5 separate regions of the Homo sapiens genome follow, and all the other regions are linked to region 3. Evidence: fine-mapped expression QTL. A gene starts in region 3. Each other region holds a variant in brackets. All regions are shown on one strand. Distances are from middle to middle.

Region 1 (5,107 bases), 59 kb before region 3:
TAAGCTATGATTGTGCCACTGCACTCCAGCCTGGATGACAGAGCAAGACCCTATCTCTAAAAAAAAAAAAAAAAATTTTATTTTTATTTTTACTTTTTAAGTGACTAGTAGCCAAGAGATGGAAGCAGGTAGAGATGATCCAGATATTGAAGTTAGCTAGAAAGACTTCAAAATAACTATAATTAATATGTTAAAGAAAAGAGGGGTAAAGATTGACAATGAGAATGAAAAGATGAAGTATAAAATCAGAGAATTAGAATCTTTTTTAAAGAGAATTAAGTAGACATTCAATATTTGTAAAATACAATATCAGAAATTAAGAATTTATCAGCTGGATTCACAGTGCAAAAGAAAACAAGATTAATTAATTTGAAGACAGGTCAGAGGAATATATCCAAACTGAAACACAGAGAGAAAAAATAACAGTCACCTTAAATATATTATTTGGGAGATACTCCCCTCATTCACTCCTCTTTTTATTCTCCTTTCTCCCAGGCAACTTATTTTTTCTAATAAGAAAAAGCAGGTGAGAGTGGGATGTAAAATAATACGTGGCTATGGCCGGGCACAGTGGCTCATGCCTGTAATCCCAGCACTTTGGGAGGCCAAGGCAGGCGGATCACCTGAGGTCAGGAGTTTGAGACCAGCCTGACCAACATGGAGAAACCCCGTCTCTACTAAAAATACAAAAAAATTAGCTGGGCGTGGTGGCACATGCCTGTAATCCCAGCTACTTGGGAGGCTGAGGCAGGAGAATTGCTTGAACTTGGGAGGCGGAGGTTGTGGTGAGCCAGGATCATGCCATTGCACCCCAGCCTGGGCAACAAGACCGAAACTCTGTCTCAAAAAAAAAAAACAAACAAAAAAAAACAACTTGGTTGGGCACAGTGGCTCACGCCTGTAATCCTAACACTTTGGAAGGCCGAGGTGGGAGGACGCCTTGAGCCCAGGAATTCAAGACCAGCCTGGGCAACACAGGAAAACTCCATCCCTACAAAAAACACAAAAATTTACAAAAAAACACAAAAATTTAGCTGTGTGAAGTGGCATGTGCCTGTAATCCTAGTTACTCAGGAGGCTGAAATGAGAGGATCCCTTGAGCCTGGGCATTCTAGCCTGGGCAATAGAGCAAGACTCTGTCTCAAAAATAAAATAAAATAAAAATTTAAAACAAAATATACCAAGAGAAGCTTGGAAAAAAAATTTGCTCTAATCAAAGTCAAACGACAAACTGGAAAAATACCTACCAATCATATCACAGATATAATTTCTGTAAAATACAAAAGGATCTACAGGCTGGGTGTGGTGGCTCACACCTGTAATCCTAGAACTTTGGGAGGCTGAGGTGGGAGGATTGCTTGAGTCCAGCAGTTCAAGATCAGCCTCGGCAACATGGCAAGATCCCTTCTCTATCATTTAAAAAGTAAATAAATAAAAGGACCCATAAATCAATATGAAAAAGGCCAACATGCCAACAGAAAATGCGCTAAAGGAAACACAATGGTTCTTAAATATATGAAAAGATTCTCCATCTCACTCAAAGCAAAATAGTAACTAAATCTATAAAACACCATGTTTCATCAGTTTGGAAAGACCATTAAGTTTGATAACACATGACTCAGCAAAGGTATGGACAAAAGGGGCTCTCACTAGAGTTTTCAGAGATCTACTCTCCCAAACATACATCACTCTGCCATTCCTAGAGTCTGGCCTTTCTCCTCCTGATCCAAGATAGCTATCATCCAGTCATTTCACATCCATTTCAAGAAACATACTTCCCTTTCAGGAAGACTTACCCAAAGTACCACACAACACTTCTGCTTACATCTCAATTATCAAATATTAGTCATAGAGCTATATCTAACAGCAAGCCTGGGAATCTTGTAGCTTGGTTGCCACATAGCCAGCTAAAAGTGACACTTTGCAAGAGAGCGACAGAAATGGATTTTTGTTAGGCAATTAACATTCTCTGCCATGCCTACTTCTTTGATTGCCAAATATTGATACACGCTTTCTCATATACAGAACACAATGAATCTCTCCCAGGGATACAGTTCTCAAATTTCATCCAGATACTGCATCCAGGTCAAAGTTCAGGAACTCTGGGAAATATGTACCTTCCATCTGGTACAGACAGCATCTCATGGTCCAGCAATCAAAAAACTTAAAAATGAGTTAACTGCCCCCAACTTACCCAACATACAAAGGTGGAGTAGGAGCAAGATTAAAACATTGAGGCCAGGCGCAGTGGCTCACGCCTGTAATTCCAGCATTTTGGGAGGCTGAGGCAGGCGGATCACCTGAGGTCAGGA[G/C]TTCGAGACTAGCCTGACCAACATGGAGAAACCCCATCTCTACTGAAAATACAAAATGAGCCAGGTGCGGTGGTGCATGCCTGTAATCCCAGCTACTTAGGAGGCTGAGGCAAGAGAATCACTTGAACCCAGGAGGCAGAGGCTGCAGTGAGCCGAGATCGCGCCACTGCACTCCAGCCTGGGCAACAAGAGCGAAACTCCGTCTCAGGAAAAAAAAAAAAAAAAAAAAAAAGATTAAAACATTGAAACTGCCCACCAGGAAAGGGGAGAAAGGAAAGCCTGCTATAGTCACTGGTCTACAGCAATATTAAATCTTATGGGGCAGGAAGAGTGACTTCCTTCCCAGGCAGTACCTGGGACCTTCAGTTGTGCTCTCTGGGAAACTCCTTTGGAGGCTTCTAGTTTTGCCCTCTGAGGTTGTTTCTTGTCCACTATCTTCTGTGGCCTCATCTTAAATAGGCATTAGGGAGCATCAGCGAGCTGCAGACCTTCCATAGCTCACTCTTTATTAGTGGTTGTATTAGTCGGTTTTCACACAGCTGATAAAGACAAACCCGAGACTGGGCAATTTACAAAAGAGGTTTAATTAGACTTACAGTGCCATGTGGCTGGGGAGGCCTCATAATCATGGTGGAAGGCAAGGAGGAGCAAGTCATGTCTTACATGAATGGCAGAAGGCAGAAAGAGAGCTTGTATAGGGAAACTCCCATTTTTAAAACCATCAGATCTCATGAGACTCATTCACTATTATGAGAACGATGCATGATAGACCTGACCCCATAATTCAATCATCTCTCACCGGGTTCCTCCCACAACACATGGCAATTGTGGGAGTTACAATTCAAGATGAGATTTGGGTGGGGACACAGGCAAACCATGTCATTCCACCCCTGGCCCATCACAAATCTCATGTCCTCACATTTGAAAACCAATCACACCTTCCCAATAGTCCCCCAAAGTCTTAACTCATTTCAGCATTAACTCAAAAGTCCACAGTCCAAAGTCTCATCTGAGACAAGGCAAGTCCCTTTCGCCTATGAGCCTATAAAATCAAAAGCAAGGTAGTTACTTCCTAGATATTTAGAGGTACAGGCACTGGGTAAATGTACCCATTCCAAGTGGGAGACATTGGTCAAAACAAAGGGGCTACAGGCCCCACACAAGTCCGAAATCCAGCAGGGCAGTCAAATCTTAAAGGTCCAAAATGATCTCCTTTGACTCCATGTCTCACATCCGGGTCACGCTGATGCAAGAGGTAGGTTCCCATGGTCTCGGGTAGCTCTGCCTCTGTGGCTTTGCAGGATACAGCCTCCCTCCCAGCTGCTTTCATGGACTGGCATTGAGCATCTGTGGCTTTTCCAGGCATGTGGTACAAGCTGCCAGTGGATCTATCATTCTGGGGTCTGGAGGATGGTGGCCTTCTTCTCACAGCCCGACTAGGTGGTGCCCCAGTAGGGACTCTGTGTGGGGGATCCCACCCCACATTTCCCTTCTGCACTGCCCTAGCAGAGGCTGTCCATATGAGGAACCCATCCCTACAACAAACTTCTGCCTGGGCATCCAGGCATTCCCGTAGATCTTCTGAAATCTAGGCAGAGGTTCTTAAACCTCAATTCTTTTTTTGTTTGTTTGGTTTGTGTTTTTTGTTTTGTTTTTTTGAGATGGAGTCTTTGCTCTGTCGCCCAGGCTGGAGTGCAGTGGCACGATCTCGGCTCCCTGCAAGCTCCGCCTCCCAGGTTCACGCCATTCTCCTGTCTCAGCTTCCCAAGTAGCTGGGACTACAGGCACCTGCCACCACGCTTGGCTAATTTTTTTGTATTTTTTAGTAGAGACAGGGTTTCACCGTGTTAGCCAGGATGGTCTTGATCTCCTGACCTTGTGATCCTCCTGCCTCAGCCTCCCAAAGTGCTGGGATTACAGGCGTGAGCCACCATGCCCAGCCTTAAACCTCAATTCTTAACTTACGTGCACTCACAGGCACAACATCACATGAAAGCTGCCAACGCTTGAGGCTTCCACCCTCTGAAACCATGGCCTGAGCTCTATGTTGGCCCCTTTCAGCCATGGCTGGAGCAGATGGGACACAGGGCACCAAGTCCCTAGGCTCCACACAACACGGGACGCTGGGCCCAGCCCACGAAACCACTTTTTTCTCCTAGGCCTCCAGGCCTGTGATGGGAGGGGCTACAGAAAGTTCTCTGACATGCCCTGGAGATATTTTCCCCATTGTCTTGGTGATTAATATTTGGTTCCTCATTACTTATGCAAATTTCTGCAGCCAGGTTGAATTTCTTCTCAGAAAATGGGATTTTCTTTTCTATTGCCTTGTCAGGCTACAAATTTTTTGAACTTTTATGCTGTTTCCCTTTTAAAACTGAATACCTTTAACAGCACCCAAGTCACTTCTTGGATGCTTTCCTGCTTAGAGATTTCTTCTGCCAGATACCCTAAATCATCCCTCTCAAGTTCAAAGTTCCACAAATCTCTAGGGCAGGGGCAAAATACCACCAGTCTCTTAGCTCAAACATAACAAGAGTCACCTTTGCTCCAGTTCCAAACAAGTTTCTCATTTCCCTCTGAGACCACCTCAGCCTGGACATTATTGTCCATATCATTATCAGTGTTTTGGTCAAAGCTATTCCACAAGTCTCTAGGAACTTCCAAACTTTCCCACATCTTCCTGTCTTCTTCTGAACCCTCCAAATTGTTCCATCCTCTGCCTGTTACCCAGTTCCAGAGTCGCTTCCACAGTTTTGGGTATTTTTTCAGCAGCGCCCCACTCTACTGGTACCAAT
Region 2 (5,107 bases), 970 kb after region 3:
GCACCCATTAACTCGTCATTTAGCATTAGGTGTATCTCCTAATGCTGTCCCTCCCACCACCCCACAACAGTCCCCGGTATGTGATGTTCCCCTTCCTGTGTCCATGTGTTCTCATTGTTCAGTTCCCACCTGTGAGTGAGAATATGTGGTGTTCGGTTTTTTGTCCTTGCGATAGTTTGCTGAGAATGATGGTTTCCAGCTTCATCCATGTCCCTACAAAGGACATGAACTCATCCTTTTTTATGGCTGCATAGTATTCCATGGTGTATATGTGCCACATTTTCTTAATCCAGCCTATCATTGTTGGACATTTGGGTTGGTTTCAAGTCTTTGCTATTGTGAATAGTGCCGCAATAAACGTATGTGTGCATGTGTCTTTATAGCAGCATGATTTATAATCATTTGGGTATATACCCAGTAATGGGATGGCTGGGTCAAATGGTATTTCTAGTTCTAGATCCCTGAGGAATTGCCACACCGACTTCCACAATGGTTGAACTAGTTTACAGTCCCACCAACAGTGTAAAAGTGTTCCTGTTTCTCCACATCATCTCCAGCACCTGTTGTTTCCTGACTTTTTAATGATCACCATTCTAACTGGTGTGAGATGGTATCTCATTGTGGTTTTGATTTGCATTTCTCTGATGGCCAGTGATGATGAGCATTTTTTCATGTGTTTTTTGGCTGCATAAATGTCTTCTTTTGAGAAGTGTCTGTTCATATCCTTCATCCACTTTTTGATGGGGTTGTTTGTTTTTTTCTTGTAAATTTGTTTGAGTTCATTGTAGATTCTGGATATTAGCCCTTTGTCAGATGAGTAGGTTGCAAAAATTTTCTCCCATTTTGTAGGTTGCTTGTTCACTCTGATGGTGGTTTCTTTTGCTGTGCAGAAGCTCTTTAGTTTAATTAGATCCCATTTGTCAATTTTGACTTTTGTTGCCATTGCTTTTGGTGTTTTAGACATGAAGTCCTTGTCCATGCCTATGTCCTGAATGGTATTGCCTAGTTATTCTTCTAGGGTTTTTATAGTTTTAGGTCTAACATGTAAGTCTTTAATCCATCTTGAATTAATTTTTGTATAAGGTGTAAGGAAGGGATCCAGTTTCAGCTTTCTATATACGGCTAGCCAGTGGTCCCAGCACCATTTATTAAATAGGGAATCCTTTCCCCATTGCTTGTTTTTGTCAGGTTTGTCAAAGATCAGGTAGTTGTAGGTGTGTGGTATTATTTCTGAGGCCTCTGTTCTGTTCCATTGGTCTATGTCTCTGTTTTGGTACCAGTATCATGCTATTTTGGTTACTGTAGCCTTGTAGTATAGTTTGAAGTCAGGTAGCGTGATGCCTCCAGCTTTGTTCTTTTGGCTTAGGATTGACTTGGCAATGCGGGCTCTTTGTTGGTTCCATATGAACTTTAAAGTAGTTTTTTCCAATTCTGTGAAGAAAGTCATTGGTAGCTCGATGGGGATGGCATTGAATCTATAAATTACCTTGGGCAGTATGGCCATTTTCTCGATATTGATTCTTCCTACCCATGAGCATGGAATGTTCTTCCATTTCTTTGTATCCTCTTTTACTTCATTGAGCAGTGGTTTGTAGTTCTCCTTGGAGAGGTCCTTCACATCCCTTGTAAGTTGGATTCTTAGGTATTTTATTCTCTTTGAAGCAATTGTGAATGGGAGTTCACTGATGATTTGACTCTCTGTTTGTTTGTTATTGGTGTATAAGAATGCTTGTGATTTTTGCACATTGATTTTGTATCCTGAGACTTTGCTGAAGTTGCTTATCAGCTTAAGGAGATTTTGGGCTGAGATGATGGGGTTTTCTAGATATACAATCATGTCATCTGCAAACAGGGACAATTGGACTTCCTCTTTTCCTAATTGAATGCCCTTTCTTCCTTCTCCTGCCTGATTGCCCTGGCCAGAACTTCCAACACTATGTTGAATAGGAGTGGTGAGAGAGGGCATCCCTGTCTTGTGCCAGTTTTCAAAGGGAATGCTTCCAGTTTTTGTACATTCAGTATGATATTGGCTGTGGGTTTGTCATAGATACCTCTTATTATTTTAAGATACATCCCATCAATACCTAATTTATTGAGAGTCTTTAGCATGAAGCGTTGTTGAATTTTGTCAAAGGCCTTTTCTGCATCTATTGAGATAATCATGTGGTTTTTGTCTTTGGTTCTGTTTATATGCTGGATTACGTTTATTGATTTTCATATGTTGAACCAGCCTTGCATCCCAGGGATGAAGCCCACTTGATCATGGTGGGTAAGCTTTTTGATGTGTTGCTGGATTCGGTTTGCCAGTATTTTATTGAGGATTTTTGCATCAATGTTCATCAAGAATATTGGTCTAAAATT[G/C]TCTTTTTTGGTTGTGTCTCTGCCCGGCTTTGGTATCAGGATGATGCTGGCCTCATAAAATGAGTTAGGGAGGATTCCCTCTTTTTCTATTGATTGGAATAGTTTCAGAAGGAATGGTACCAGCTCCTCCTTTTACCTCTGGTAGAATTTAGCTGTGAATCCATCTGGTCCTGGACTTTTTTTGGTTGGTAAGCTGTTAATTATTGCCTCAATTTCAGAGCCTGTTATTGGTCTATTCAGAGATTCAACTTCTTCCTGGCTTAGTCTTGGGAGTGTGTATGTGTCGAGGAATTCAACCATTTCTTCTAGATTTTCTAGTTTATTTGCGTAGAGGTGTTTATAGTATTCTCTGATGGTAGTTTGTATTTCTGTGGGATCACTGGTGATATCCCCTTTGTCATTTTTTATTGCATCTATTTGATTCTTCTCTCTTTTCTTCTTTATTAGTCTTGCTAGCAGTTTATCAATTTTGTTGATCTTTTCAAAAAACCAGCTCCTGGATTCATTGATTTTTTGAAGGGTTTTTTGTGTCTATATGTACTTCAGTTCTGCTCTAATCTTAGTTATTTCTTGCCTTCTGCTAGCTTTTGAAGGTGTTTGCTCTTGCTCCTCTAGTTCTTTTAATTGTGATGTTAGGGTGTCAATTTTAGATCTTTCCTGCTTTCTCTTATGGGCATTTAGTGCTATACATTTCCCTCTACACACTGCTTTGAATGTGTCCCAGAGATTCTGGTATGTTGTGTCTTTGTTCTCGTTGGTTTCAAAGAACATCTTTATTTCTGCCTTCATTTCGTTATGTGCTCAGTAGTCATTCAGGAGCAGGTTGTTCAGTTTCCATGTAGTTGAGTGGTTTTGAGTGAGTTTCTTAATCCTGAGTTCTAGTTCATTGCACTGTGGTCTGAGAGACAGTTTGTTATAATTTATGTTCTTTTACATTTGCTGAGGAGAGCTTTACTTCCAAGTATGTGGTCAATTTTGGAATAGGTGTGGTGTGGTGCTGAAAAGAATGTATATTCTGTTGATTTGGGGTGGAGAGTTCTGTAGATGTCTATTAGGTCCTCTTGGTGCAGAGCTGAGTTCAATTCCTGGATATCCTTGTTAACTTTCTGTCTTGTTGGTCTGCCTAATGTTGACAGTGGGGTGTTAAAGTCTCCCATTATTATTGTGTGGGAGCCTAAGTCTCTTTGTAGGTCACTCAGGACTTGCTTTATGAATCTGGGTCCTCCTGTATTGGGTGCATATATATTTAGGATAGTTAGTTCTTCTTGTTGAATTGATCCCTTTAACATTATGTAATGGCCTTCTTTGTCTCTTTTGATCTTTGTTGGTTTAAAGTCTGTTTTATCTGAGACTAGGATTGCAACCCCTGCCTTTTTTTGTTTTCCATTTGCTTGGCAGATCTTCCTCCATCCCTTTATTTTGAGCCTATGTGTGTCTCTGCACGTGAGATGGGTTTCCTGAATACAGCACACTGATGGGTCTTGACTCTTTATCCAGTTTGCCAGTCTGTGCCTTTTAATTGAAGCATTTAGCCCATTTACATTTAAGATTAATATTGTTATGTGTGAATTTGATCCTGTCATTATGATGTTAGCTGGTTATTTTGCTTGTTAGTTGATGCAGTTTCTTCCTAGCCTTGATGGTCTTTACAATTTGGCATGTTTTTGCAGTGGCTGGTACCTGTTGTTCCATGTTTAGTGCTTCCTTCACGAGCTCTTTTAGGGCAGGTCTGGTGGTGACAAAATCTCTCAGCATTTGCTTGTCTGTAAAGTATTTTATTTCTCCTTCATTTATGAAGCTTAGTTTGGCTGGATATGAAATTCTGGGTTGAAAATTCTTTTCTTTAAGAATGTTGAATATTGGCCCCCACTCTCTTCTGGCTTGTAGAGTTTCTGCTGAGAGATTCACTGTTAGTCTGATGGGCTTCCCTTTGTGGGTTACCCGACCTTTCTAAACTCTGGCTGCCGTTAACATTTTTTCCTTCATTTCAACTTTGGTGAATCTGACAATTATGTGTCTTGGAGTTGCTCTTCTTGAGGAGTATCTTTGTGGCATTCTCTGTATTTCCTGAATTTGAATGTTGGCCTGCCTTGCTAGGTTGGGGAAGTTCTCCTGGATAATATGCTGAAGAGTGTTTTCCAACTTGGTTCCATTCTCTTCGTCACTTTGAGGTACACCAATTAGACGTAGATTTGGTCTTTTCACGTAGTCCCATATTTCTTGGAGGCTTTGTTCATTTCTTTTTATTCTTTTTTCTCTAAACTTCTCTTCACACTTCATTTCATTCATTTCATCTTCCGTCACTGATACCCTTTCTTCCAGTTGATCGCGTCGGTTACTGAGTCTTGTGCATTCGTCATGTATTTCTCGTGCCATGGTTTTCAGCTCCATGAGGTCCTTTAAGGACTTCTCTGCATTGGTTATTCTAGTTATCCATTTGTCTTATTTTTTTCAAAGTTTTTAACTTCTTTGCCATTGGTTCGAACTTCCTCCTTTAGCTTGGAGTAGTTTGATCTTCTGAAGCCTTCCTCTCTCAACTCGTCAAAGTCATTCTCTGTCCAGCTTTGTTCAGTTGCTGGTGAGGAGCTGCGTTCCTTTGTCGGAGGAGAGGCTCTGATTTTTAGAGTTTCCGGTTTTTCTGCTCTGTTTTTTCCCCATCTTTGTGGTTTTATCTACCTTTGGTCTTTGATGATGGTGACGTACAGATGGGTTTTTGGTGTGGATGTCCTTTCTGTTTGTTAGTTTT
Region 3 (5,107 bases):
TAATTCCACTTTGACCATCGAAAAAACACAAAAATGGCTGGGTGCAGTTCACCACACCCATTTCCCCTAGTCCCACAGAGGAAATAATAGTCTGCACCTGTCCACCTTGAAAACAGGTGACAGGCAGAGGATGGAAGCCAACAGGACCACCACAGTTTGCATGATTTCAGCATTCATGTTGGCACAGAATTGTATTGAAATTCCTTCCTTCTCTGGAAAGGAATGAGGAAAGAATGAGTAAAAGGCCCGGGGCATTGTCTGGGAGAAGCTCCTCTACAGAAAAGCATGGGACTGGGGGAAAAGGCTCCCCACTAACAGCAGCAAAACAAGCCAGGGAAGTGCACAACGCCTCCCAATGCCCTGGGATTCCTACTCTCCAAGCATAGATGCTCCTTAGCTTATAATGGATTTATGTTCTGATAACCCCACTGTGAGTTCAAAATATGGTAAGTTGAAAGTGCATTTAATACACCTACCTACCGAACATCCCAGTCTACTATTATCCCATTAGCCTAGTCTACTTCACATGTGCTCAGGACACTTACATTACACTACAGTTAGACAAAACAATTGAACACAAAACCTATTTTAGAATAAAGTGTTGAATATCTCATGTAATTTATTGAACACTGTACCGAAAGTGAAAAACAGAATGGTTGTACGGATACTTGAAGCACACTTTCTACTGAGCTACGTATTGCTTTTGCACCATCACAAAGTAAAAAAAAAAAAAAAAAACATAAATCAAACCATTGTAAGTCAGGGAATATCTGTAGTTCACCACATGTGTGAAAGACAAGTCAAATGGACAGCAAGAAAAGGAAATTCAGTAGGTTTTATCAAGCATTTACAATGTGCAAAGCCCTAGGCCAGGTACTGGGAATACAGGAATAAATTCACACTCAAGGTGACCCAAGGAAGCTACCGCCTGGGATAAAACCCCACTACTGCCCCATTATCAGCCTTGAAGAGTTTTATGGTATGAATATTGAACTGCTTTGGGGGAATAATCTCTTCCTCTGATAAGGATATTTAGATAAGGAGTTTTTCCCCTTATCTAAATATATTCTAGGCGTTTACACTGAATTCGGGGGATTCAGTAGAGAAGGAAACAGAGTTCTCATGGAGCCTACATTGCACCATCATGGCAACTCTGCATGACAACACCCTAAGACCAGCTCCACCCACCAGAGAATAATCCTAGATGACCTATTAAAGTCCCCTGCACTCTATTATCCTATGATTTTTCTGTAACTCTCTTGGCCTCTTTGCTTCTTTCCTCTCCTAAATTTCATGCAGCATATGAGTTTCCTGCTGGTCATGCTACACTCATTGTACTAATAGGTACCTCTTCCTTCTGGAAGCCTTTCCTGTAGCCTTAGCAGGCTGGGCTTTGTGGCTTTATGCTGTGCCCTTGGCACTCTTCATGGGCTTCTATCAGTGGGTGAATCTCATTTTATATTCCTCACTTTAGTGCAGGGGCAGTTTCTCATTGAACTTCACACCCTCCAACACCAATCACAGCACCTGGCATAGAATAGGCACTCAATAAGTATTTGCTGCACTGAGCAATCTGTAGGGGCCAACATGGAAAGTTTTCCCTTTGCCCTCTTAAGGTTCACTAAAAAATCAACTTGCAAAAGGCAGATTAATTGGAGAAAAAGCATATAAATGTATTTAATGTGTATACCCGGGATCCTTCAAATGAAGACCCAAAGATACAGGGGAAATTATCCATTTTTATGCCTAGGTTCAACAAAGTATGGGCAGTGACGTAGAAATGTGATCGGACAAAAAGTGTATGATCTAAGACTAATAGAGGGAGAAAACCCAGCAAGGCCTGTCTGTCTGGATTCTTCTTGGCCTCTCTGAGCATGCACTCTTTCCTTCTGGGTATGGGACAGGACTCCCTCTGGAATGGGGGTCTTATGACCTACAGTCAAACAAGGGAAGTCAAATAATGTCTTTATGGCCAGATTTTACACAGAACGGCAGAGGGAAAGTCCCCACAGTCCTTGTATTAATTCCCTAGGGATGCCTTAACAAAGCACTCGGTGACTTAACAGAAATGTTTTGTCTCACATTTCTTGTGACTAGAAGTCCAAAATCAAAGTGTCAGCAGAACCAAACACCAAGCTCCCTCTGAAATCTGCAGGGGAGGGTCCTTCCTTGCCTCTTCCTAGCCTTTCTCCGGTGGTGGCCGGCAATCCACCGCATTCCTGGGCTTACAGCTGCATCACTCTGATCTGCCCCTGTCCCGCCACATTTTCGTGTGTCTCTGTCTTCAAGTGGCATTTTGACACCGTGTGATAAGGACATCAGTCATGTTGAATTAGGAGGGTCCACCCCAATGATCTCGTCTTGACCACATCTGTAAAGACGCAGTTTTTCCAAGTTAGGTCGCATTCACAGGTGCTGGAGGTTAGGTCTTCAATGTCTTTGGGAGTGGGGACAAATTCAGTCCTTAACACTCATGTTCTATATGTAGTGCTGCTTAGGCATCCAGCCAACAGACCTGCTTATTTTACTGCAGTCAGAATACCTTCTCCCCTTCCTCCTCACAGTCCAATGACACAGACGTGCTTTGGGGGCAAGATATTTGCGGGCCGTGGCCATCATTCTAAGCATGCAGCACTCCAGGCACCAGGAGTCCTCCCCGTGCTTCAACCCCTCTTCGATGAGTTTGCACCCCCGACCTCCGCTAATGTTCACATCCTTTAACGGGAGCCAGTCTTCTGCTACGTAATTAGACGAGTCTTGAAAGAAGCACCCAGGGGCGTGGCTGAAGACTTTAAGAAACACCAGGCAAGGGAGGGGAGTGGGTACCAGAGACACCTAACATTATTTGAGTGGCAGGAGCTTCCTCTGACCTTCAACGAGGTAAAGAGACATCACAGCCAGCGAGAGTTTGGGGCAGACTCCCCAGACTCGGAGGCCGGGGCAAAGTGGGAGCCGGGGCCAAGTGGGAGCCGGGGCCGTGTGGGGTGGGGGGGGGGGCCCAAGGCGGGGAAGGCCCGGGCCGCCGACAGGGGGCGCGCGAGGGCCTCCGGGCCCCGCGGGCGGGGCGGGTGCTGGACCCGGAGGGGCCTTCCGGCAACTTTTTGGTTGGTGCCGCCCCGCCCAGGCCCCTTTTAAACTTGATCTCCGCAGTGCCCTCCCTTTTCGGCCGCGGCGCGTGACTGGGTAAGTGGGCTCGGACCTTCTGGACGCAGGAGCCGACCACGTGGCTCCGGGGCTACCCCGTGCGCTTCCTAGGCGCGCCTCTCGCTGCCCCCACGCCGAGGCCTCGGCTCGGCGCCGCGGGGAAGCCTCCGTTAGGGCCCCTCGGGGGTGGGGGCGTCCTCGTGGCGCTTGGGCCCTTCGTCCCGGGTTAGGACGGCCCGTGTCCTTGTGCGCTTGAAGGGGCCGCCCCCTTTCCTCGAGGATCCCACCCCCACTCAGCAGAAGCCGCCAGGCGCCCGTCACCTCCCGTGCCTGAGTCCCTGCCGTCCACGCATTCGGCCTACAGGCAGCTTTTAGTCCTTTTTCAATTAAATGATTGCATTTTGAGGATCAAATTCCAACCGCAGGCGGAGGCGCCGAGCCCCGGACGGTCTCTGGGTTCTTGGTGCACTCGGGGCTCCTGCCTGCCCAGGGGCTGTGACCGCGCGGACGGAAGCCTATTTGGGAAGCGAGTGAGATCTGATGTCTGAAGCGCTTTAAGTTTCTAAGCGGGGCAGTATAATAGCGGGGTTAGCAAACACACGGAGGTCATTTCACTCGCGCAGCCATCCCCCACCGCCACCAGTGCCGTTCATTTGCTACTGGCCCGCAGTCAGATAATTTAAAGGCTTGGAGGGACGAGTCTTGCTGGAGCCGACGCCTACAGTAAGTTGAGCGGAGTGCTGTGAGCCCTAATAAGGGAGCCTGCTTTCCTCCCGAAGATTCGCTTTTTTGGGAGTGGCCAGAGCGTTATTACAGCACAGGGCCCGCTTCCAACGTTTAATCAGGGTGTGAGGAGGCCCTTCGTGGTTTTCTGACCTGGGAAAAGTCTGAACTACTGGGTTCTTTCTGGCTTGGACCAGGACAAGGTGTTGAACGCCTAACTTAGGTCTACTAAGGTGTAGAAATACGCAAGGCTGCCCCTAGAGAACGTTTGTCTGGGGAATAATGTAAGTTTTTGGAGCGGCTCTCCTGAGCATCGCTGAGCATACTAATTGTTCATTACTGGTACAAAATGCTATATAAAGGGATACTTTGCGAATTTAGTAAAATTGATAAAGATCTAAATTTACATTTGAGTCAACAAATAATCTTTGTGGCTAGCATAGGTACCACAGTTCTGTTGGAATGTGAAGCTCGTGGTTCACCTGTTTTCCTCAGTTGTGAAAGATTTGCTGCCTTTTTGATGAAACCAAATGGGACCCATTTTACCATTCTTTAATGAGGAAAGCTTGTACATTTGCAGCCTAGGTTCTAGGCATCTTTTATCCAGCGTTATAGATAGACCCAGAGCATGGACAATTTTCCCTCCCTGGAATACCTCCAGCTCTGGCGAATAGCCCTATATACAGCACAGGAAGATAGCGGTGGTAAGGCTTTGTTTTACCATTGCTTTAGGTGTTAGAGATTCTTATTGAGCCCATTTTATTTTTATTTTATTTTATTTATTTTTTTGAGTCGGAGACTCGCTCTGTCACCCAGGCTGTGGTGCAACGGCGCAATCTCGGCTCACTGCAACCTCTGCCTCCCGGGTTCAAGAAATTCTCCTGCCTCAGCCTCCTGAGTAGCTGGGATTACAGGTGCCCGCCACCATGCCCAACTGTTTGTATTTTTTAGTAGAGACGGGGTGTCACCTTGTTGGCCAGGCTGGTCTTGAACTCCTGAGCTGGTGATTCGCCAGCCTCAGCCTCCCAAAGTGCTGGGATTACAGGCGTGAGTCAGCGCACCCGGCCTGCCAAATTGTTTTTTAACTATTCAGTTTAAACTGTGAGAGACACCATGTCAAGGAAGCAGTGTGAGCTAGCGTCTAAGGATTGTGAAAACTGAGCAAGTGCCCAGAACTAGAAACTTCCCAGCCCCCTGAACTCAGCCTCAGGGTAAGCGAGTTTAATAGTGCTTCCTTTGA
Region 4 (5,107 bases), 230 kb before region 3:
CTCAGAGCCTCTGCAATTAAGGGCCCAAGTCTGGACCACCAATGTAACTTCACTCCTCCAGGAATCCAAGTACTGAAAGCAGGCCATAGCCCTTTTCAATCTTTGAAGTCGTACCCATATTAGTGGGCTTTTACTCTTAAAACATAAAGATCAGGGGACTTCTGTTCCTGAATAAAACGTAGTAAGATCGTAGCAGACTAGAATTCCCATTGCAACAATTATAAAGAACCAGATAAATTAAGAAAGTCACATTTTTAAGAATCTCAGAAAATGAGGAAGCAATGAAGGCTACATAAATCACCAATTGTTTTCTTCCCTGGGGACATTTTACAATTCTGGGCATGGACTAAGAATTTGACTTGACTTATAAAGAAGGAATCTACTTGGGGAAAGAGAAACCAGAGAGGTTTTTGGCAGTCACGTGGGGCTGGTGGGAGAAACCAGAAATTTGGTAAGTGCTAAACACATAGCTGGTTTTCCCCCGGGACATCTTCTGGGTTCAGGGGCTATGCAAAGAAGGCTGGGACATTTGTTTAAAGACTTCAAAAAGTCATAATAAAATCTCCTCTAGTTTCATGGTGCTAAGGGGAAAAAGTCTAATTAAAGGAAGAAGTCTTGCCATTCAAACACACAGCCAGCCACCCTGTTTAGGACATCTTCCAGATTTTGAAGCTGTAATGGGGCAAGGGGTGCAAGGCTAAAGAGCTAAGTTCAAAACCTCTAACGTACAGCACTAAATTCCCCACAATCTTTCAGAACTGAGAAGACAGAATTCCTGCAGGCTGTAATCAAAAGTCCAGAATAGCTATGTTTGAGGAACAGAAAAAAACCAGAAGTGGACTAAGTCTTACTAAAGCTGCAACTTAGCCCCTATTCAGCTCGAAGATAAAACCTTCATCCTAAGAGTGTTTCCAAAGAGGAATGTGGAAGCCCTTTCTAGTATAGGGCATCAACTGGAGCCTCTGCAGTGCTTCTATTTATATTGTCTGGTTTATAATAAAAAAATTACTAGACATGCAGAGAAGCAGAAAAAATGTGACTGATCATTATAATCAAGAGAAAAGATAAACAATAGAAGCAGACCCACAGATAAGCCAAATATTGAAGCTGGCAGATGAGAACTTTATTAAAAAACTCATTAATATACTACATGAAACAGAAGAAAATGGGGGAAATGGATGCAATGATAATGAATATAGAAAGATTTAAATCTTTGTAAAAGAATCAAATGTACATTCTCTAACTGACAAATATAACACCTGAGTTTAAAAACACATTAGGTGCATTTAACAGCAGACTGGACAGAGAAGTAGACAAAATTATTAGACTTTAAGATAGGATTATAGAAAATATACAAATCCAAGCACAGATGAAAAGAACGTATAAAAAGAAAACTGAGCATACGAGATAGTTAAAAGGTATACCATATTTATTTAAAGTTCCGGAATAAAAGGAGAAATAAATGGGAGCAGAAGCAGTATTTGTGGAAACAACAGCCAAAATGTTTCCAAAGTTGATAAGACATTACTCAACAGATTCAAGAAGCTCATCAAATTCTAAGCAAGATAAATAAAAGGAAAACAACAGTTAGACATATTTTTGTCAAACTTCTAATAATCAAGAATTAAAAGAAGCCTTAAAAGTACCCAGAGGGAAAAAATACATTAACTTCAAAGGAGCAACAATAAAATGAATGGCTGACTTTTCAACATAAATTATGAAAGCCAGGAGATAATGGGACAATATCTCAGAGTGCTGAAATAAAAGATTGTCAATTTAGAACTTTATGCTTATTTAAAATATCATTCAAAAATGAAGGAAAAGTAAAGAAATTTTCATCCAAATGAAAATGAATTTTTAACAGATCTTCACCACAAAATCAATTAAAGAAAAAATTTAAAGCAATCATATAAAGGCATGAAACTGAAAGAAGAAATAAAGAGCTTCAGAAAATGTAAATATGTGGGTAAAAATAAAATATTATTGTTTCATGTAACAAGAATAATAATGTCTTGTTGAAATTATAACATATAAACAAAATATGTGACAATATCACAAAGGCCAGAGGAAGAGTATTATGTCAAGAATGCATATTATGGTCTCCAGAGAAATCATAAAATAATAACATAATTTATTACTAACCATATAGTAAGTAGAGAAATGAAATAATAAAATATGCTTGATTAATCCAAAAGAAGACTAGAAAAGAAGAATAAATGAGCAAAGAACAGATGAACTGATAAAAAATAAATAGCAAGATAGTGGACTTAAACCCAACTATATCAGTAATTCCATTCCATATGAATAAGCCAAACAATAACATTTTTTTTAAAGATTGTTAGATTAAATTTTTAAAACTTGACTACATGTTACAGACAATAATTACTATATAGAGAGACACAGAAAGGGTGAGAATGAAAAGATGGTAAATGATATATCACCTTGACACTAACCAAAAGATAGCTGATGTCATTGTGCTAATAGCAGACATTGCCAAATACACTGTATGTTAGCCTAAGAGGAAGTCTTAACTTTTTTTTCAAAGGATTCAAATTATATGTAATATGTTCTCTGACTACAATAGAATTAAAATATAAATAAATCAGAGAACGATAATTAGAAAATCTCCGAAATATTTGGAAATTATGCAACATACTTCTAAATAACTCAAGGATCAAAAAATCAAATAAAATTAGAAAATATGAGCAAAATAACAATAAAAGTGACATATTAAACAGTGATGCCAAAAAGGAAATTTACAGTTCCAAATGCAAATGAATA[T/C]TTAAGATGAGAGAAAAAAGAAAGACTGAAAATCAATAAGCCTAATTCAGACAAATTTAATCCAAGGAAAACAGAAGAAAAAATATTAATGAGCAGAATTAATAGATTAAAAAACATATTACAGGGAAAGCAAACAAAGCCAAAAGTTAGTTCTTTGAAAATAGTAATACAATTTATAAGTCCTTATTAATGCTGATCAAGAAAAAGAGGGAGAGAAAACACAAATTATCAATATCAGGAATAAAAGGAAAATCATCACTACAGACATTTAATAAACAATCGTGTGTCACTTAATTTTAAAAATTGAGATAAAATAGATAAAATATTGTTTAAAAATAAACTCCAAAATGGACACAAGAAGAAATAGAAAATCTCAACAGTTCTATATCTGTTAAAGAAATTGAATCTACCTATTGAATTGTTCTATGTCTATGGAGTTGAATAGTTTATATCTATTAAAGGAATTGAAAGAAATTAAAACTCTTTTCACAAGGGCTTCAATGGTGAATCTTTACACGTATTTAAGAAATAAATAATATCGATCTTACACAAACTCTTCCTCTTCACTTTACTGTGTTTTTTAATCTTTGGCTAGGTAAATCAGGAATTTAGTCTAAAAGGGAAGAAAAAAAAGAAGACAAGTGTTCTTAGAGTTGTCTCCAAAGTGGCCTACAACCTCCCAGCAAATTTGCTTTCTTGACCAGAAACATTACATTTTAAAAAGCGTTTACTCCCCAAGGGGGCAAGGAGAGTTCACACCTTTAGAAACATAATCCTAGTTTTTCTTATTGTGGGTTGGGGATAAGGGATGTGAATTTTTACATTGTAAATCTACAGGGGAAGAAAAAGCTGCAAGCAAACTTTTTCAATAAGTCCATCAGCTCAGTGGTAATATAAAGTGCTTAGGACAGTGCCTAGTTTATAGCAGTCACTCAACATTTTTTTGGTTCCGTTCTCACTTTAACTTTCAAATCTGCAGCTTGTAGTAGACACTTGTTTATTGCCCCTAGCTTCCACTTATCTTCTTGGGCAATAGTCCTCAAATTCTCCTGTGTAGGGACTATCTTACCTCTATTCACAACCCATATATAGACGACCCTGTATTTGGGCTTTAGCGGTCAAAAAGCACCTTGGACAAATGAGGTCCAATGAAACCATGATGGTTAATTTTATATATCAATTTGACTGGGCCACGGGATGGTCAAACATTATTCTGAGTGTTTCTGTGACGATGTTTTTGGATGAGATTGTCATTTGAATCAGTAGGCTGAGTAAAGCAGATTGTCCCCCTCATGTGGGTGGGCCTCACCCTTCAGTTGAAGTCCTGACTAGAACAAAATGGTTGACCCTCTCCCAAGTAAGATGGAATTCCTCCTGTCTGAGTATCTTCAGACTGAAACAGTGGCTCTTCCTGGGTCCTTTGGACTGCAACTACACCATCAGTTCTCCGGCCTTCAGACTTGGACTTTGGACTTGCACCATGAGCTCTCCTGGGTCTTTAGATTTCTGACTCACTCTGCAGATCTTGACATTTGTCAGCTTCCATAATCATGGGAGCCAATTCTTTATAATAAATCTCTTTATATATGTATATATACACACATATATACATATATATAAATAGATTGCATAAATGTATATATTCATATGTATATAAACATATTTACATATTTTATATATGAGGAGTCAATAGAGCTAAAAGTGGAGCTGCTCAGAGGATGGGGAGCAGAGAGAGGAATCCTGGGGACATTGGCTAAGCCCTAATTTAAGTTGTGCCTGAAGCTCCCCTGGATCTTTCAACTTTTCAGCATCTATCAGCCAATACATTCTTTTCTTTTATGAGAATTTGGGCTGAATTTTCTGTCACAACCAAAAGAAGTGTTTTCCTTAATGAACACACACACACACACACGTACACACAGACACATATGGACACACATACACACGTACACATAGACACATGCACATACATACGTACAGACACACACATATGCATACACACACATATACACAAACGTACACACATATACACACACACACAGATGTCCCTGATTTTTCTTTATTTTTATTGCTTCTGATTTAAGTATGCTTCATTTAATAGACAGGGCATTTTGTTTTCTTTTTTTACACCAGCACTGAACAATCAAACTTTCTTCAGGGATGGAAATGTTTTACATCTGCACTGTCCAGTGAAGTCCCTGGACTGGGTAAAAGTGCCTAGAAAGAGAACGTTGACAAAGAAAAGAAGAGGCCAAGGATGGGGGTCTGATGAAGGAGGAAGAGCTAGCAGATGAGAAATGGCCAGTAGAGTTGAAGGAGTCCAGAT
Region 5 (5,107 bases), 26 kb after region 3:
TACCAAAGATGGGGACTGAGATAAACCAGTTCCCATTTTAAGCTGAGATTCCCATGTAATTACATCCTAAATGTAAGCAAGGGTAAACCTGAAGTAAACTGACCCTCACATGGACTTGTAGTCCAGTTCTGCCTCATCCCAATGGGCCAGGAAATCTCAAACCTTGAACATGGATTAAAGTGTTACCAAATGACTAGTGTCCACTATGCATCTGGTAGAAGCTAGTTAAAGTTATCTCTAAAGGAAGATGCCACCATCTTAGGCTTCAAAGTATTCCTACAATAATAATAATAAAATAAAAATTTTATAAAATAATATACAAATTATTATCATTATTATGTTGAGACTGGATCTCACGCGTTCTCCCAGGCTGAGTGCAATGGTGCAATCATAGCTCACTGCAGCCTCAACTTCCCAGGCTCAAGAGATCCTCCCACCTCAAGCCTCCCAAGTAGCCAGGACTACAGGCATGCACCAGGATGCCCAGTTATTTTTTTTTTATGTATAAAAAAGATGGGGTCTCACTATGTTGCCCAGGCTGGTCTCCTGGGCTCAAGCAATACTCCCACCTCAGCCTCCCAAAGTGTTGAGATTACAAGTGTGAGCAACCACACCCAGCCTTTATAATTATTTATTATATTTATTCCAACACATATGTTTTTATGTACCTGCTTTTTTTTTTTTAGATGGAGTACCCTTGTCGCCCAGGCTGGAGGGCAGTGGCATGATCTCAGCTTGCTGCAACCTCCACCTCCTGGGTTCAAGTGATTCTTCTGCCTCAGCTTCCTGAGTAGCTGGGATTACAGTCATGCGCCACCACACCCAGCTAATTTTTGTATTTTTAATAGAGATGGGGTTGGCCGGGCACTGTGGCTCACACCTGTAGTCCCAGCACTTTCGGAGGCTGAGGCAGGTGGATCATGAGGTCAGGAGATCGAGGCCATCCTGGCTAATATGGTGAAACCCCATCTCTACTAAAAATATAAAAAATTAGCCAGGCGTGGAGGCGTGCACCTGTAGTCCCAGCTACTCTGGAGGCTGAGGCAGGAGAATCGCTTGAACTTGGGAGGCAGAGGTTCCAGTGAGCCAAGATAGCGCCACTGCACTCCAGCCTGCGTGACAGAGTGAGACTCCATCTCAAATAAATAAATAAATAAATAAATAAATTAGAGACGGGGGTTTCACCATGTTGGCCAGGCTGGTCTTGAACTCCTGACCTCAAGTGATCAGCCCACCTTGGCCTCCCAAAATGCTGGGATTACAGGAATGAGCCACTACACCCAGCCACCTTCCTCTATTTGTTCTATATTTGATAATTCAAACATATTTAAACAAAAATACACATTTTTGCATCTAATATTTTGAGACATCCTAATGTCCTTAATATTGCAGTTCTCTTAACCATCCAAAGATAAAAGATTAATTTCATTTTGATTCCTCTCTTACCCACATTCATAAGGCACAACTTATAAAAATAAAAAATCTTGGACTCATGAGGTAAATCAAAGTTGCTCCTAAAACACATGTATTTAAACCACGAGCATTATTAAACAATAAATATATATACATTATTTATTTGGAGCAAATTTTGCCAGCTAATCAGAAAGAGTAAAATGCTGTTTAGCATGAATTTGCTTTTAGAGAGTACACCAGTGCTGGATAAAAATACAGGCACCAAGTTAGGGGATTCTCAGGGATTTTGTTTTCTTTTGACAAAGTTGTCTTCATTCATTTGTCACTGAGGGACCGCTAGGGAAATATCCACCTGTATCCCTTTTCTTAAGTCTAGAAATAGAGAAATAAGCAAGGCATTTCCATTGATATATGTGCCATAAAGGAAGTAGCCCAGAATGCAATGAAAGTATGTAAAAATGGCAGGAAGTTGCCCCACGGCAAAATCTGAGGGCCAAGAAGGAACTGAACTAGCAAGTGAGGATTAGGGGTAGAGACAGCTCTCCAGGTTGGGAGAACAGTGGGTACAGAGGCCTATTGAAAAGAGAAAGGATAACTGCAGACAAAATCCAGAGGTTGGGGTGGAAGGTGCGAAAGTCGGAGAGGAATAAGAAAGGGAAGGGATGAATCAAGTCTGGAGAGAGACTCCCCTTTACCTGGGAGGAGCAGGAAGGAGCGGTGGATCACCAAAGCTGCTGTGCCCTGATATGGCTTGGCTGTGTCCCCATCCAAATCTCAAATTGTATCTCCCAGAATTTCCACGTGTTGTGGGAAGGACCCAGGGGGAGGTAATTGAATCACGGGGGCCAGTCTTTCCTGCGCTATGCTTGTGGTAGTGAATAAGTCTCACAAGATCTCATGGGTTTATTAGGGGTTTCTGCGTTTGCTTCTTCCTCATTTTCTCTTGCCGCCACCATGTAAGATGAGCCTTTCACCTCCCACCATGACTCTGAGGCCTCCCTAGCCATGTGGAACTGTAAGTCCAATTAAACCTCTTTTTCTTCCCAGTCTCAGGTATGTCTTTATCAGCAGTGTGAAAATGGACTAATACAGCCCTCTGTGGATTCCCAGCTGCAGGCGGCCTCCTCTCCAGCCTTTCAACACACTCACCCTGCACCTTCCCCACAGAGCTGGGGGCCAGGGCCTGTCTCAGCTACTTGCCAGGACTCCTTTCCTGCTTCCTCTTGCCCATCCTGACCATCACTCCTTATTTTCACCTTTCTGATGCCCATCAGAAATGGGGGTCATAAATGGGGGTCAGAAATGCGGTTCTGATTTAGATCTTTAGTGCCACAGGAAACACAGTTATCAGTGCAGAGTGAGTGTGGGAAAGTTTTCAGGAGAGAAGAGAGGTCATTTAGGAGAGTGGATCAGACCCCCATCTGGCCAGGCAGTGGCATCCCAGTCTTCCTGGTTATGCCCTGCAATCTC[A/C]TGTGTGTCTTCCTGGTTTTAGAGAGCCCTGCTGAAAGCCCTCTTTATGGCACCCACTGCCTTCTACCCTACCTCATCGCCACATCCCCTATGGAGGCTACCACTGATTCAGATCCATCATTGCAACCCTCAGCAGAATAGCCCTGCTATAGTGGCAGGGATTCCATATCTACCCTTTCCTTCCTTCCTCCCCTCCTCCCTTCCTTTCTTTTCTTTCCCTTCTTTTTTCCTTCCTTCCCTCTTCCTTCCTCCCATCCTTCCTTCTCACCTGCCCTCTTGTATGTATTCATGTATTTAGGTATTTTGCCAGGCATTGGGGATAAAGTGGTAAGAAAGTTGGAGAGGGTTCTTACACTTACAGCCCAGGGATAACAGCAAATAGACCATGAATTACAACCCAGTGTGATAAGTTTCAGCTTAGACAGGGTGAGGTGCCACCCCATCACCCCAGAAGCTAGTCATGGAGGAACCATGGCAGGTCACTCAAAAGGCCCTCTGGAACCTAAAGGTTGGCATATGGCACTGAGGAAGGACATTGACTCTGGACATGTCAACCCCTGACACAGGAGCACTACCCAGCCACCCACCCCAACACTGAAACAGTGCCTGGGGTCATTCACACCCGCAGAGGTCACCAACCCTGTGGCCTCTCCCCAGGTGCACCCTCTGTGCTTCAGCACTTCAGCCATGCCTGAGGCATCAGGGTTTTGCTGTCACTCCACACCCCAGCACTGGACAAATCCTCCAGTGACAGAAACTGCATTAAAGTGCTGGAACCACAGTCTGCTCAAGCCAACCCCACTGGCCCATCGGCTGGTGGAAAGAGCTTCTTGGGAGCTAGCCTGCCACAGCAGGAATTCTCTGGAATGTGTCAGGATCTTCCATCTGGCCCAGTCTGGGTAGAGGGTCTGGCCAGGAGAAGATCACTCCTCACTGGCTAGTCTCCCTTCAAAGTCTCAGCACCAGGTTGGTCCTTGGGCTGGGCTGCCATTGGACTGCATTTCTCGTGTCCACTGACATTCCCACTTCCCTAAATGACCTCTCTTCTCTCCTGAAAATTCTCCCACACTCACTCTGCACTGATGACTGTGTTTCCTGTGTCACTAAAGATCTAAAAAGCATGGGAGAGGACTTCCTTGAGCTCTCATCCCCACACCTGCCCCCCTGCCTGCACCCAGGCCCTGGGCTCTGCCACTCCTCCTGTCTCCAGGCTCCTGGCACAGACCAATTCCCCCCCACATCCCTCTTCCCTCCAGTCTTTCTTCCCCCCTGCTCATGTGTCCTCAAACGTTCTCTTTACTAGGTCTTACAAACAAGCTGTTATTCCAAGAATCTCTTCAAAAAACAGCAACAAGGCTTTCAGCTTTCAGCTGGGAGGAGGCCAAGGTGCAACTTTCTTGGGTCGTCCTGAATCTAGCCACCTCTGCCATGCTGCCGAAGTTCTACCCCAATGAGATCAAAGTCACATACCTAAGGTGTACTGGGGATGAAGTGGGTGCCACGTCTGTGTTGGCCCCCAAGATCAGCCCCCTAGGTCTGTCTTCAGAAAAGGTTGGTGATGACATTGCTAAAGCAACTGGTGACTGAAAGGATCTGAGGATTACAGTGAAACTGATCATTTAGAACAGAGAGGCCCAGATTGAGGTGGTGACTTCTGCCTCTGCCCTGATCATCAAAGCCCTCAAGGAACCGCCAAGAGACAGAAAGAAACAGAAAAACATTAAACACAGTGGAAATATCACTTTTGATGAGATTGTCAATGTTGCTCAACACATGTGGCACCGATCTTTAGCCAGAGAACTCTCTGGAATCATTAAAGAGATCCTGGGGACTCCCCAGTCTGTGGGCTGCAATGTTGATGGCTGCCACCCTCATGATATCATAGATGACATCAACGGTGGTGCTGTGGAATGCCCAGCTAATTAAGAAGCACAAAGGAAAATATTTCAATAAAGGATCATTTGAAAAACAAACAAAAAAAAAAAAACACAAAAAAACAAAAACAGCAACAATAACTTTCTCTTGGCCTCCCTGTTCTTCTCTTGGCTACTACCCCAGCTCTCTACTCACCTTTATATCTTGAAAGGATCATTTGTTCTTGCTTCAATTCTCCCTCAACCCACTGTGAACAACTTTCATCCCCATCTCTCAACATATCTACTCCTCACAAGGTCATCAATTACCCCCCACAGGGTGCAATCCAGCTGTCAGTTCTGAGTGCTCA

Evidence for each region. PIP is the estimated chance that this variant, and not a neighbour inherited with it, causes the effect.
Region 1: its variant is fine-mapped to the expression of SNHG26 in spinal cord (GTEx, PIP above 0.99).
Region 2: its variant is fine-mapped to the expression of SNHG26 in subcutaneous fat (GTEx, PIP 0.94).
Region 4: its variant is fine-mapped to the expression of SNHG26 in whole blood (INTERVAL, PIP above 0.99).
Region 5: its variant is fine-mapped to the expression of SNHG26 in whole blood (TOPMed, PIP above 0.99).

The regions. Positions count from the first base shown.
Region 1 is chr7:22,792,171-22,797,277 of GRCh38, forward strand. No RefSeq gene overlaps it. Among named protein-coding and RNA genes, the nearest start is that of TOMM7, 28 kb to the right of the region's middle. The variant G/C (reference allele first, on the strand shown) is at 2,313.
Region 2 is chr7:23,822,696-23,827,802 of GRCh38, forward strand. All of the region lies in intron 23 of STK31 (serine/threonine kinase 31), which reads left to right. Among named protein-coding and RNA genes, the nearest start is that of STK31, 120 kb to the left of the region's middle. The variant G/C (reference allele first, on the strand shown) is at 2,362.
Region 3 is chr7:22,851,098-22,856,204 of GRCh38, forward strand. SNHG26 (small nucleolar RNA host gene 26) reads left to right here and starts at 3,143. Exons shown (of 5, transcript NR_146320.1): 1 at 3,143-3,183. RefSeq lists a silencer at 2,958-3,417 and enhancers at 3,515-4,126, 3,918-4,147.
Region 4 is chr7:22,617,001-22,622,107 of GRCh38, forward strand. No RefSeq gene overlaps it. Among named protein-coding and RNA genes, the nearest start is that of STEAP1B-AS1, 56 kb to the left of the region's middle. The variant T/C (reference allele first, on the strand shown) is at 2,782.
Region 5 is chr7:22,877,582-22,882,688 of GRCh38, forward strand. The region is part of intron 3 of LOC107986776 (a long non-coding RNA gene); the gene reads right to left. It also overlaps the pseudogene RPL12P10. Among named protein-coding and RNA genes, the nearest start is that of SNORD93, 24 kb to the left of the region's middle. The variant A/C (reference allele first, on the strand shown) is at 2,884.